Linked DNA regions of Homo sapiens. The protein of the gene in region 4 purifies or fractionates together with the protein of the main gene of each other region. This does not show direct contact. Each region holds a gene or a part of one and is shown on either strand. Other genes may lie near its edges.

What was found.
Region 1: the proteins of GPM6B (region 4) and FAM162A purify together in Homo sapiens (affinity purification with mass spectrometry; one large-scale study listed by BioGRID and IntAct). This does not show direct contact.
Region 2: the proteins of GPM6B (region 4) and ALG11 purify together in Homo sapiens (affinity purification with mass spectrometry; one large-scale study listed by BioGRID and IntAct). This does not show direct contact.
Region 3: the proteins of GPM6B (region 4) and SEC63 purify together in Homo sapiens (affinity purification with mass spectrometry; one large-scale study listed by BioGRID and IntAct). This does not show direct contact.

The regions. Positions count from the first base shown.
Region 1 is NC_000003.12:122,410,159-122,412,834, reverse strand, and holds the end of FAM162A (protein FAM162A), read right to left. Parts: 3' UTR 501-2,676; downstream 1-500. UniProt on the Homo sapiens protein: Proposed to be involved in regulation of apoptosis; the exact mechanism may differ between cell types/tissues.
Region 2 is NC_000013.11:52,025,549-52,029,397, reverse strand, and holds part of ALG11 (GDP-Man:Man(3)GlcNAc(2)-PP-Dol alpha-1,2-mannosyltransferase), read right to left. Parts: intron 1,080-3,849; coding exon 808-1,079; 3' UTR 594-807; coding exon of another isoform or gene 1-593. Other genes in the region: UTP14C (U3 small nucleolar RNA-associated protein 14 homolog C), read right to left, coding at 1-593. UniProt on the Homo sapiens protein: GDP-Man:Man(3)GlcNAc(2)-PP-Dol alpha-1,2-mannosyltransferase that operates in the biosynthetic pathway of dolichol-linked oligosaccharides, the glycan precursors employed in protein asparagine (N)-glycosylation.
Region 3 is NC_000006.12:107,899,209-107,903,057, reverse strand, and holds part of SEC63 (translocation protein SEC63 homolog), read left to right. Parts: intron 1-59; coding exon 60-214; intron 215-1,540; coding exon 1,541-1,688; intron 1,689-3,849. UniProt on the Homo sapiens protein: Mediates cotranslational and post-translational transport of certain precursor polypeptides across endoplasmic reticulum (ER). Proposed to play an auxiliary role in recognition of precursors with short and apolar signal peptides.
Region 4 is NC_000023.11:13,782,259-13,786,457, forward strand, and holds part of GPM6B (neuronal membrane glycoprotein M6-b), read right to left. Parts: exon of another isoform or gene 3,715-4,199; intron 3,551-3,714; coding exon 3,364-3,550; intron 1,264-3,363; coding exon 1,107-1,263; intron 1-1,106. UniProt on the Homo sapiens protein: May be involved in neural development. Involved in regulation of osteoblast function and bone formation. Involved in matrix vesicle release by osteoblasts; this function seems to involve maintenance of the actin cytoskeleton.

The DNA.
Region 1 (2,676 bases), on a different chromosome or scaffold from region 4:
ATTCTAAGAGTCTAAAAATTTCAAAAACCAAAACAACATTATAAATGGTGTTTCTCAAGGACCTTTCACTACCTTTTTAGATTGTGCTTGTGATTTTCAGGCAAGCTAAATGTCTGATGAAGACTGCTCTTCTTTTGTTCTGTGTCTGACCTACTAATTCCTGCCCATGCTTCAAACTCAGTTCAGAAATCACTGAAGGAACCATCCACTGCCGGCCTGCCTGCAACCACAGCTGACAGCTGAGTTAGTTAGGTTTTCCTGTCCCTATTATTTACCAGTTTGTACTGAAATGCTTTCATGGGCTGTGCTTCCAGATTATGAGTTCTGTGGAATCAGGAAGTATGTCTCTGTATTCTTGTATTCTTTGGCTTTTTTGTGTAGTAAAGGGACTCAAGTAATGTTTGACAGTGAAGGATACAACTTCATTCCTTGCCTGCTTTGATAAATTTTAGTAATAAATTCCCAAAACTATCATGTTGATTAAAAATAAAAAGTAACCGTAACCTCACACATTAACTTTATTCAAACAAACAGCACTTACAGGAAATGTAAAGTAGAAAAAGATTTCTGCCCACTTTACCTACGGAGACATGATAAACACGCAAAAAAAACCTAGAAATTAAGCAAAAAATAGCACAATAATTTAACTGAAAGCAACAAGGGCAAAACTGTCTCCTTTTGTAGTTTGTGGTACCTTATAGTAGTGCTCATTCAGTTTCGTTTGCTTGATAAATCTGAGGACTATGAGATATCAGAGTTACTAGTAGGGTAGGAGTGCTGTAAGGGTACTGGGAGAAGTAGGATTAGTTAGGGGCAGATCTTGAATTCTGGCCAAGAAACTGATATTTAACCCATAAAGAGATAGTCACTATATGTTATCAAATAGGAGAATAACACAAATGAGAAATGACTGTTAATTCCTGATGCATAATAACAGTTGTGAGCTTTAGTTTAATGTAATATTTGTAATAAAAACGTTTGGCCAGGCACCATGGCTCATGCCTGTAATCCCAGCACTTTGGGAGGCCGAGGGAGGCTGATCACCTGAGGTCAGGAGTTTGAGACCAGCCTGGCCAACATGGTGAAACCCCCGTCTTTATGAAAAATACAAAAATTAGCCAGGTGTGGTGGTGCACACCTATAATGCCAGTTACTGAGGAGGCTGAGGCACGAGAATTGCTTGAACCCGGGAGACGGAGGTTGCAGTGAGCTGAGATCATGCCCTGCACTCTAGCCTGGGCGACAGTGCAAGACTGTCTCAAAAAAAAAAAAAAGGTTTCATTAAATTTAAGCTCATAAATGTTACTACATTTATAATGTAAATCTCCAAGATACAACACATTTTTGTTGTATTGCTCTATGAAGAGGATTATTTTTAAAAGAAATTCCACATTAAAATTTATCCACATTTAAAACATTGGTGTAGGTGTCCCAAAATAAGAAAAACTAATCTTCTAAAATGTACAAGAAACTATGCTTTTTGAAAATAAATTTGCAAGTGATAACTTGATACCTACAAAGAAGCTAAGGCCAAATTAAAGTATATAGACAGACATCATAAACATCCTCAGATAGATTATCAAGCTATAGGTAGTATGTTACATTTTACTGGGTATTTTATTTGGGAAGAAAGTGCCCAAACAGCTGCATGTATTTTTAATCTCTCTTATAACTCTCTGAGAACCAGCATGTTGGCATGGCTGTATACAGTAGTCACCCCTTACCCTCTGGGGATATATTCCAAGACCCCCCAGTAGATGCCTGAAACTGTGGATAGTACCCAACCCTGCATATACTATGTTTTTCGTATACATACATACCTATGATACCGTTTATTTTATAAATTAGGCACAGCACAATGCACTTTGAGGCAATTATTAAATAAGAGTTACCTGAACACTAGCACTGATTCCACGACAGCTGATCTCGTAACAGAGACGGCTAGCACATACAGTGTGAATACACCAGAGAGAGGGATGATTCACATCCCAGGTGGATGGAACAGATTGGCAAGAGATTTCATCATGCTACACTGAATGGTATGTAATCTATAACTTATGCATTGTTATAGGAATTTTCCATTTAATATTTTCAGACCTCAGGTAACTGAAACCACAGAAAACAAAGCCGTGGATAAGAAGGGACTACTATAATGGCTTGTCATCCATGAATAATTAAGAAGCATGTGAGAATCAATGTTTAAAATAGAAACCTGTATTCATACCTAAATATGAGACAACTCGATATCCCAAGGTCAAACTGTAAATGAGATATATATGAGGTGCAAATACTTCTAACAGTAATAATACATGAGATTTTTATAATTGAGAAATTTAGTTTCTCAGGTGGTAAGAAAACAGCCAGTTGAGAATTCTAAGGCATGAAGCTAAGAGGTGACTTGTGTTGACCCCAAGCAACTCCATGACGCTGGGATTTCTAAGTCCTTAGAAATTCCTGGCTGGACCTTGTCAGAATGTTTAAAAAACTATTCTCCTAAAAGCCTCCATCTGCCAGCATGTTCAAAGATTATAGAATGTGGTCTGGCTGCTTCTCAGCGCTCGCTCTATTAGGGGGCAGCCTCCCCACCAGTACACCAGGACATTTGAGAAGGCTGGCCCTCCAAGCTGCACCTGGGCCATATACTCAACTGGCCTTCCTTATCTCCTCAAAATGAGT
Region 2 (3,849 bases), on a different chromosome or scaffold from region 4:
ACTGGCTGCTTGTTCTTATGGAGGAGGTTAAAAATTTCCTGCTCCAGGGGAGTTCTTGCCTTCCAGCCACTGAGCGCATGTTCAATGGGAGCAATGGCTGGCTGCTCCTTCCCCAGGGGAAAAACCAGCTGCTCTGCCTGCTGGTTCTTCAGGATGATAGGGTCCCATTTGGAGAGGACCTGTGAGGTTTTACTGAATGCTACTTCTCTGTGGATCTGTTCAATTTTTTCTTTGTTAAGAGGTAACTCCACCACCTTCTTTGATTTGACTCTATTCAGTTGCTTTTTTACAGTGGCCAAAGAAGATGAAGTTTTAACGGGCTCAAGCAGATCTGCAAGGCCCAGCTTTTCTCCTGATCCTTCAGAACTGACACTGAACTCTGACACTTTCAGACTAGCCTCAGACCTCTCAGCCAATTTCCGCCTATTCTTTCCATCAAGGGAAATGATTGCTTCCAGAAGCTTTTGATGCTTTCTCTCTCCATCACTGTCCCCCTCATCTTCATTTTCACTCAAGGGGTAGTTTTTTGGCAAATCCACTAGTTCTTCCTGGTGGCTCAAAGCCAGATTCTCTGCAACCTGGTTCACATTCATCTCAGCAGCCAGCCTCTCTCATGTATACCAAGAATGGAAGCCGAAGGCTAGTCATCCATTTTCTTTTCAACACTTCCTTTTATTCTAAAAGGAAATTTTGTCTGTTTTCTAAAGTAAAATGATTTGACAAATGAGATTGAATTTAGAAAAATATTTACATATGAAGGTGTTTAACCAGTTTATATAAAATATCTTTAATTTTACAGATATGGCATTACTTAAATAACTTTTCCACAGATGATAGGAATGTCACTTCAAATTCCTGATCAGAGAATCTGCTTACAGATGCACGAGCACTTTTTCTGATTTGGAGTCTCTTTTCTGCAGACATGGAAAGAATGTGAGCGATAGTTTCAGCATAGTCTTCTTCACTCTCAGCCAGAAAGCCAGTTATATCTCCTTCGTGAGGAACCACAATGTCAAGCTTTGGGCCCCCCGAATTGTGTGCAAGGATAATTGTGCCAGCTGCCATACACTCCACAACTCCTGAGAAAAAAAACACAAATCATGTAATCTTTTAAGTTTTTGAGTGTGTTCATAAGAATGAGGATGAATAGAAATCTTCAAAAAATTTAAGGGACTTATGAGAAACTTAATTAAATGTATGTCTAGACATTTGCTTATTCAACTTCTACAGTACAAGATAAAATAATTTTAAGTTTTTTAGTTTTCAAAGCTTCATAATAATACTGCTTCACTTTTTTTTTTTTAAGAGATAGGGTCTCACTATGTTGCCCAGGCTGGCCTCTAACTCCTAGCATCAAGTGGTCCTCCCATCTTGGCCTCCCAAAGTGCTGGGATTTACCAGCGTGAGCTACCACACCCAGCCTGCTGCTTTATTCTTAGTTAAAATAGACAAGTAGATGGAAGACTAGCCTATTAAAAAAGATATATTGCAGATAATTAAAAAAGAAGACTAGAGAATGTTAGCAAGATGGTAGAATATTAACAGGTATTAGAAAAACAAAAGGAGTAAAAACATATAAAAAACAATTTTAATAGTTCAAATTACATTAGCAGAAAAAATAAAAAAGTGAATCACCTAAGTGAAGCATACTATCGCCGTGCTTATGTTACTGCCTGGATTTCTGGCATATTTGAGACTACTGCATGCCCAACAACAGTGCTGAACTAAATGAAAGTTGTGGTTAGTTTCTGCCAAATGATACACATGAAATATAAATTACTCTAGCCAGCCCTTCTTAGCCATATTCCTAGGAGAATTAAGCCCTTCAGGGAATGATTCAAGTGACTGCTTTCCCAATTATCTGAAGGATGGTACAGAGCTGATATCATCCTGGATGTATAGGAGAGAAATTAAATCATTCCAAATGTTTTTAGAACTGGTGAAATCCCTGCAGAACAGAATTCAGTAGCTCATATCATATTCTGCTTGAAGCTGGAGAGCATCCTGTACTTTCTCAGAGACCTGCATCTTTTACCCTTTCCCTCTCTACTGGCTCCTTCCTATCAGCTAGGAAGCTAGGGCACCACATGCCCTTTCTCAGGTCCTGCAACACCCACCCCTAGCCACTGTCTCTTCTCCCCCTCCCCGTACTTCACAGATAAACTTACTGAAAGTGTGGTTTGCACTTACCAACTCTACTTGTTCACTTCTGAGTGCTTGACTTTTGATTTTTGCTCATAGTCTGACTTTTGCTTCTACTTCTCCCTCAAGACTGCTCTTGCCCAGGTCACCAGTGACTGCCTTACCTTCCCCAGCATCTGGGCAGCATCGGAATCTGTGCCCTCTCCATTCTTCTCCAAACACTCTCTTCCTTGGTTTCTAAGACACTGCACTTGGATGGCTTTCCCCGCCTCTCCATTTCTTCTCCCCATTTCTCAGCTGTTCCTGTTCTCTGCATTTTGTACTGAGAGCCTCTTTTCACTCTGTACATATTCCCCAGGCGATCTTAACCACATCCACGGGAGCTTTGATAACTACCTGCACAAGGACAATCCTCATTTTTTATTTCCAGACCAGACTCCTCTCAACTTCAGACTCCTATATACAAAACTACCTCCTGGACGCATGCCCTCACATGTCCCACAGATGAACTCAAATTCTGCAGGTTCAAAACTTGGCTCATTAATGGCATTTGCTCTTGGATTTCCCCTCTGGGAGAAAGCCAACACCATTCTCACAGCTGCCCTGCTCCCAAAACCCTAGGTAGTCTTCTCTTCCTCCCTCATTTAACACATCCAGTTAATCACCAAGTCCTGGTCAATACTACTGCAGAATGTTTCTCAAGCATGTTCACCTACGAAGTTCAGCTCATGAGCACCTCCATCTGGGCTGCTACAGTAGGCCGGCTCATCTTACTGCCCTTCCAGTCTTGCTCTCCCTGCTCTTCACTGATCCACTCCCCATGTGGCCAGAATGGACTGGAGAAATCAGAAAGCTTTTACGTGCAATACTTAAAATCCTGCTATTTTTTTCCACTGGCTTAACCTGGCCTATATCACCTCTCTGTTGTCTTCCTGCTGAATGTTCCTATTGATGCATCTGTTGTCACTCCTGTCACAGTGCTGTTCCCTCTGCTGGAGACTCTCCCCTCTCTCCTGGCTAACCTCTATTGTTCGGGTCCTGCTCAAGTGTCACATCATTTCCTTGGGCAACTGTTCCCTGCCCGCACAAGTCTGTGTTAGGTTTCTCTTTGGCGCTTTCACATCACCCTGCACTTCCTTAGCATAGCACCTGGCACACGGCACAGCACGGCACGGCACTTGCCTGTGTAGCCTGTTGGTACCACCAGAGGGTGGGAAGCCTCTGACAGGCCAAGCAGCTCCTGTCTCCACCACATCCCTAGCATCCACCCAAGCGCTCAGCAGAGTGAATGCTTAGTAAGTTTCTATGGAAGGAAGCACAGGAGGTCAGATCCCATGCAACAGGTTGGGTCAACAAGTTCTTGCTTAATGTCTGGGCCTAGCACTACACTACTAACTAGGAGTAAAAAGAGTATAAGAGAAATTGAAGTCTTAGTTTAGGAAATGTCACTTTTATGTTATCCTCATTTCCCCTAACAACTAACAGTGTGAGGCACAAAGCGCTTGAGAAATATATGTGGACCCAAATTAAACACAAAGCAGTACTTGATTTTATAGCAAAATGTGTGCTTAACAGGTCAGAATAGAGATAGCAGTTTGTGCCAGAATAAACAAGAAAGGCTAAAGTGCAAGGAGATTTAAGTTGAAGACTTATGATGCAATCTGGCACAAAGAGGAGAGCCATTCCAATGGTGAGGGTAGAATCAAT
Region 3 (3,849 bases), on a different chromosome or scaffold from region 4:
TATACTCCTGAACATGTAAAAAGTCCAGCCCTGTTTCTTTTTTTCCTGTTCTTTCTAAGAAAGGGAGTTTCGTGCTCCAACTTTGGCATCCCTAGAAAACTGCATGAAGCTTTCTCAGATGGCCGTTCAGGGACTTCAGCAATTTAAGTCTCCCCTTCTGCAGCTCCCTCATATTGAAGAGGACAATCTTAGACGGGTTTCTAATCATAAGAAGGTAATTCTTTGCTACTTTAAAGTCAGTTTTCAGCAGTTTGTCCTGTCACTTAAAGGTAACATGAATAAAAGTTTTCTGGAAATGGTTACTATGCATTTTTTAGATTTAGAATGTCTTAAATACTCTAAAACTTTCTCTCAGGTGGTTCTGTTAACATTTTCTTGACTAGGTAGCTGTGTTTTATAGTATTTTACTACTGTAAGTAGTTTTATTATTTTGGGGGTTGTTGCATTTAAAAAGTCAACAGTTAGTTCCTTATATTATGTTACCAAAAATAAATGTACTGTCTACTTTACAGTCATTTTATTCTTGGCTTAAGGTTGGGCAATTGTTTACTGGTTAAGCATGAACAACAAAAACATTTAATAAATCAAATAAAGACAGTTCTTATTTAGAATATATAATCTATAGTATAAACATGATAATGAATCTTAAGATATAACAAAAATTTGTGTAAATGAAAAACTTGAGGAAATATAAGAAACTGAAGTTACAATTCTAGTAGGAGATTTTAAACATTATTTTGTATATGATAGATAAAACTAGCAGAGAATAGACATTGGATTTGATAGTATATTAATGTAGAATTAATAAATGCATGTTGGAAATTAGTATCAGAGTTCTCTGTCCTTTTAAGTACTCATGTTCCCCTTATAAATTTGATTGTATGTTAAGTCATAATTAAAAACTTCAGAATCTAAAAGCAGAGATTTTACATGCCTCATGATCTAATCTGTGTCTTTGAAAGTGAAAAATAACTAGCACCAAACACCTGGAAAATTAAAGAACACGCTCCTAAGTAACCATTTTGCCAAGATGGATATTACTGTAGTAATAGCTATATTTTAAGAATAACAAAAATGAGAATATTGCATAGTAAAACTTTGAAGGTGCGTCTTTATTGAGGTTTATTTTTACTTTTATTAGGTAAAAGTAAACGTTTATTATTAAAGGTTTGTTAATAGTAAACCTATTAATTGCTAATTAAAGGTTTTTGTTATTAAAATTGAAAATAAACTGAGGACATCAATTGACAAAGTTCTTGGTTGAGTCAAGATTCTTATTTTTTCCCTCCAACTTTGTTTTTTCTAATTTAAAAAAATAAGCCTGTATTAACTTTATAATTTAAAAATTCTTAATTTAAATTTTCTTGGAGAAAAAGGTCATGAAATGCCATATCGTTATTTTGTACTTTGAAATGCACATTAATCAACACTTTTCTAAAAGTTGCTGGATTTTGTTGTGGTTAACATGTGAGTAATTTTCTTTTTATGAAAAGCTTTGTGAGTTAGGGAATTATGTATTTTCTTTTTTTTTTTTATTCAGTATAAAATTAAAACTATCCAGGATTTGGTGAGTTTAAAAGAATCAGATCGTCACACTCTACTGCACTTCCTTGAAGATGAAAAATATGAAGAGGTTATGGCTGTCCTTGGGAGTTTTCCATATGTGACCATGGATATAAAATCACAGGGTAAGTGGGAGGTTTCTCTGTTGAGCATTGCTTCCCTTTTGATAGATTGGTTCTCATTTATTTGACTCAGGATTCTCAAAACACTGTACTTAATAACATAACTTGTTATTAGACTTTGCAGAACTGTAGTTTACCTGTCAGATTTACTATGTTGGAAAATGATTTATACCTAATAGTTTGAGAACACTGATAGAGTCCTACTTTTATTATCCTCATAATGGGATGAAGTCTGAACACTCTGTTCTGTAGTTCAACTTTTAGCAATTTCTTAACTTTCCAAAGAATGATGAAGACTTCCAGGCATAATAAAAGAATGAGATATTTGAAGTATATTATTAGTATGAAAGAAATAGCTGCCTAGTTCTAAAATTAAATTTTTAAAACCCAACTTATTTATGTTAATTAAATGTTGAAAATTACTGTGTTTTATGCCACATTTCATGTGTTTTTCTTGCCCTACCTCTATATTTTCTTTGAGGGAAAAAAATAAAGGCTATTTTTCTACCTATATAATTGCTCTGTGTTTCTATTTCAATATCTGAATGGTCTTAGAATACTGAGAGAATTAGAGACTATCTGCTCCATTCTTTCATTGTGGTGGTGGTCTGAGCTTTAACATTTGCTAAGTTACTATTATGAGAACATTCTTTTAGTTACCAAGAATACAGGGATATATTAATAATGGTTTCTGTCTTTATTTTATTTATTTATAAATAATTTTTGAGACAGGGTCTCACTCTGTCGTCCAGGCTGGAGTGCAGTGGTGCGATTTTGGCTCACTGCGTCCTCTGCCTCCCGGGCTCAAGCAATCCTTCTACCTCAGCCTCCTGAGTAGCTGGGACTACAGGTGCACACTACCATACCTGGCTAATTTTATTTTTTGTAATTTTAGTAGAGACAGCGTTTCACCATGTTGCCCAGGCTGGTCACGAGCTTCTGGGCTCAACTGCTCCACCTGCCTTGGCCTCCCGCAGTGCTGTGATTATAGGTGTGAGCCACCGTGCCTGGTTTGTGTCTTTAAAGAGAGCTTATTGTCTAGTTGAAGCAATAGGCTTAAAAATAAGATAAGGGCTGGGCCCAGTGGTGTCATGCCTTTAATCCCAACACTTTGGGAGGCCAAGGCAGGGGGATCACTTGAACCCAGGAGTTCGAGACCAGCCTGGGCAACATAGTGAGACCCTGTCTTTATAAAATTAAAAAAAAAACACACACACACCAAGATAACATATGCTAAGTGTTAACGTGAATGACACAGACATTGTACCATTTATTTATACAGCAAATATTGAATGCTGTGCACTCCTCTAGGTGCTAGGGAAGCAGTGGTAAGACATACCCTCTGCTTATTGAGCTTGTATTCTAATAGGAATTCTAATTGGGAAAGGAAGGCAAACAGTGCAATCTGGTTTCAGTTTGGCTGGAGTGTAGCATATGTGTTGTGAAAACTTGGTTTGCTTTGGTGAGGAGTTGGGGTTGCCTTGTGGGGCCATGAGTTTTCAGACTTTAAAAATACTAATTTAAAAGCTGTATTTAGGACTGTGCTGATTTAATAAAACTGTCCAAATAAAAATTTTGGGACTTAGAGATACTTTGTGATATTAAGAACTGTTAAAAGTATACCCTTTTCTTTTCTTTTCTTTTCTTTTTTTTTTTGAGACAGTCTTGCTCTGTTGCCCAGGCTGAAGTGCAGTGGCACTATCTGGGCTTACTGCAACCTCCAACTCTAGGTTCAAGTGATTCTCCTGCCTCAGCCCTCCCAAGTAGCTGGGATTACAGGCGTGTGCCACCACCATGCCCAGCTAATTTTTGTATTTTTAGTAGAGACGGAGTTTCACCATGTTGGCCAGGCTGGTCTCGAACTCCCAGCCTCAGGTGATTCACCCACCTCAGCCTCCCAGAGTGCTGGGATTATAGGCGTGAGCCACCATGCCTGGCCAAAAGTACATGCTTCTTAGAAAAATGAATATTAGAAGAGATTTTCTTATAGAAAGTAGAAATTTAAGAGTGTTCGGCCTCACTGACAAATATTACCATGGATCCACTCCATAGCATCTTGGATAGACAGTTTATTTATATTTTTACAGTGCTGCCTAATTATGTAATAATAGTGCTATAGTTGGTGAAGGAGGAGTAGAAGAAATATAGAAGCAGGAAAGGGGCA
Region 4 (4,199 bases):
GCGGGCCATGCTAGGTGGGCTGTGGATCCCTCACAGTGTCCCCATCTCTAGGTGAAGTGCCACTAGCTCAAGTACAAACAAGCTCCTCTCCTCTCCACCATGTACTGTGTCCTGACCAATGCTCAAAGGATCCAAATATGTTAAACATCAGGCAGTGGATGACTTAATGCTGTGCCCTGGTGGAAACTAGACCTCTATTTTTGAAACTTGATGGGTAGAAGTGAGGGGGAAAGCTGTCATTTTAAAGCTGTGAGGAGATGTTTTTGGTTTTTTTTTCCTTTGGAGGAGGATTCCCACTATTTGTGGCTATTTTCCCTCTGCTTTCCACAGGCATTTTATTTAACAGCTGCCTCCTTCCCCTACAAAAGTAACCATTCCCCTGACTTGTACAGGAGGCTGAGGCAGGAGAATCGCTTGAACCCGGGAGGCAGAGGTTGCAGTTAGTGGAGATCGCGACACTGCCCTCCCCAGCCTTGGAGACAGAGTGATGCTCCGTCTCAAAAAAAAAAAAAAAAGAAAAAAAAAAAAATTCTTGGCTCTTGAGCTGTACAAAAACAGGTAGTAGGTCAAATTTGGCCCACAGCCCCTAGTTTGCTAACCCCTGTCTTAGACTATAAGCTGCTTGAGAAAGCAGCCTGTGTTTTAATCTTTGCACCTCTAGTGGCTAGCAAAGCCCAGCTAGGCGCTCTGTACAGCAGGTACTGGTAAGTATTTACAGAAGGATCAGGACGATTTTCCATGGTTCATGTATGTCTTTATGGCTATGATCCATATTTAAAGACAACCAAAGGGGAGCACTGAGACCACATGAAAGTTACCTCCTTCTATAGTGGGAACTTGGCATTTGAAAAATCTTCAGCACCCTTTTCACCTTTACACTGATGAAAACATTTGATTTATTTCTGCCAGCCATAGACTTTAGTTTACTATCAATAGCATGTTGAAGGTTTTTATAGTCCTAACTCTAAATTGGTAAAGCCAATATTTGTGTCATGGACCCTCCATTCACGCTCGATACCTGGTAGCTTTTGCCAAATACAAGGAAATACATCAAGGCATGGCTCTGGTTGTATATCAAACAATCAGTTATCAGAGGTTCAACTCACCATTCCACTGATGCATCGGCCACAAGCGGTTGTTTTAAACTCACCGTGCAGTTCTTTCACTGCACTTGTGGTGTAAAAGCCTTCTGCCAACAGAATGATCCCATACAAGAAGAAAAAGGACGCAATTCCATAGATGACATACTGCATCAGTTGTATCCTACAAAGAGAAGAAGAGATCCTGAACCATTAAATTCACTGCCTGGTAGTGACTACGTTTCTGGACGCTGGAGAGAGGACATGAGGGGGATGTTCCTGTGAGTGCGTCACTCGCCCCACTGATGGCTTTGATGGACTTGTGGGGCATCCTGGGCGGCATCCCTGCCCATGTCCCAGCAACCTGGGCCTTCCTTCCAAGGTGGGAATGATGTTTCCTTTGCTCAGGGCAGCATCCAGTTGTAATCTTTTAATCCTTACCTGAGTCCTGGGCGGCAAGGGTTAGAATCCTCATTTTGCACATAAGTAAAACACAGGCATTGAGGAGTTAAGCTCCTCATCGGAGGATACACAGTTAGTGGCAAAGCCAGCATCTGAACCCTGGCCCAATGGACAACATGTTCTTTCTGCCCTTTCAAAATGCCTCCCAACCAGGCCTAGTGGTTAATGTCACTCTGATAAAACCCCTAAGTAGGCACTCAGGGCTTCTTTAGGGGGTAATCTGGGGAGATGTCTTTTGCACTGTGACTCCCACCACACAAATAGTAGTAGGTCGAGTAGGTTTAAGATACAGAAAGTTAATTCACAATGCAGTTTGTCCCACAAAAGCTAACAAAGACAAATGACATGTCCTCAGCCTTCGGCTGCCCACTGGAATCACCTGGGGAGCTTGGAAAATACTGGTACCTGGATCCCGCCCCCAGAGATTATGTCCTAATTGGTCTGGGGTAAGGCATGGGGATTTTCTTAAAGCTTCTCAGAAGTTTGAGAGCCACAGACTGAGATCACTACCTAATTAAATCAACACACCTTTCCCAGGTTCAGTCTTGGTAAACATTTCTTCTTTGCACATAGTTGGAACTCAGTGAGTCCCCTGTCCTGCTTGAGCCCTCCTTATAATCTCCCCAACCTGTGTTCATTTCTTTGGAGGTCATTTGTGAACAGATAAGAAAGAATAAAATTCCCTAAGGACTGAAGAGTCTCCAACATGACTCCATGACCATTCCATAAAAATTCATTCATGTCTTTTTCAGTCTGGTGAAGAAGTTTCTTATAATCATAAGACACACTAACACTGGAACTTTGGGATTCAAGGGAAGAAAAAGAAACGGTAGAAGGAAATGGAGAAAGGGGAAGACATGTGAAGGAAATAAGTAGATTGCTGCTGAGCTTGCACAGCTACAAGAATCTATGTGTGGGAGTCACTGCGACTCCATTGAGAATGTTTCCAGAAAGAAAGGCAGAGATCTGCTGCTAAACCCCTGGACCTTCCTCTCTTCTGCAATGGAGGATGCCCTGGGATCTGCTCTTCTGCAATGGAGGATGCCCTGGGATCTGCTCTTCTGCTGGAAGAGTTAATGTTAAAATACTGCTCCTGTAGGCTTAGAGTTGGGGTCAGTCCTCAACAGGGCTCCTACCATTCCAGGGATGGTCACTTCCTGGGAGAAAGCTGGAGGCATCTGTTACTTGGGAACAACACAATTCTGTTGAGACAATCGGCAGCATCACCTATCACCATGTCACAGCTCCCCATGTCCACAGCTACCATGTGTGGAGTGTCCTATGTGTGCACCTTACCATTCCCAAGTAACATTCCACCCTGGGGCCTAAACAGCTACCATATTCTAGGCCCTTTCTTTTTCCTTCTCTCATGAACCTTTTTCTAACTACATAAAGTGAGCTTTAAGTAAAAGCATTCATCTTCTGCTAGGAAAGCACACTGTAGTCTTTCTGAAAAACATCATGAGGTGGTTGCATCTCAGATACTTTTTTTTTAAACAAAGTATCACTCTGTCACCCAGGCTGGAGTGCAGTGTTGCCATCTCGGCTCACCAGCTCACCGCAACATCCACCTCCTGGGTTCAACTGGTTCTCCTGCCTCAGCCTCCCAAGTAGCTAGGATTACAGGCACGCACCACCACGCCCAGCTAAATTTTTTTTTGTATTTTTAGTAGAGGTGGCGTTTCACCATGTTGGCCAGGCTGGTCTTGAACTCCTGACTTCAGGTGATCTGCCTGCCTCAGCCTCCCAAATTGCTGGGATGACAGGCATGAGCCACCACGCCAGGCCTTAGATGCATTTTTAAAGGGAACCGGATACTTACACCTCGCTCAGCAAGGCATGGTCACTGGCGTTGGTGGAGAAGTGTTGCTCAAGAATCGCCACGGTGCCTGCGAGAGCCACATGCCCACAGCCGCAGAATAAGGCCACCCCGGAGAAGCAGAGGATGGTGGCCACCAGGGAGGCGTAGGGGACTCCTCCCAGACACTTGATGCAGCATTCAAAGCAGCCTGAACCCAAAGGAGAGAAAATATAGCCGTTACGGGCAAGAACACCTCTGGTCTTCAAGAATACCCCATATTCACAGAGAAGGCTTACAATTTTCCATCTCCCCTCTCAGGCTCTATGGTTAATATTAATACTTCGACATCCCAAGGGCCAGTGTGGTAGTTACCGTGATCTCACATTCTGCGGTGAGGACCCTGAGGCTCCAAAAGGGAATGTAACTTAATTTGCTCAGAATCTGGAAGGGTAGTGAATGGCAGAGCAGTCAATTGACAAAGAGTTATAAGGTAGTTACAGTTCTAGAGCTTCCTGATCGACTGAGTGGTGGGGGGAGCCCCGCTCAAGTGCCAACAAGAAGCACTCATTCCACTAACACAGTCAAAAGAGAGGACAGCAGTGAAGCTGCAGCTCTGTGAAGAAAAGCAACAGTCAGGTCGTCTCCAGCCTCACAGTTCTGGGGTTTCAATACGTCTGCTGCTGTGGCAACCAACGGCTTTCCCCAAGCCCTGGACCTCCGGGGCAACTGGGAGAATCTGATACAGCAATTATGCCGTCGCCAGGTTCAAACAAATAGCAAGGTGATTGTTTTGGAAAGGTCACAGGTATTTTGGTCCATAATTCAGTGAAGAACAAAGTCACCAAGAGCCACTCAAG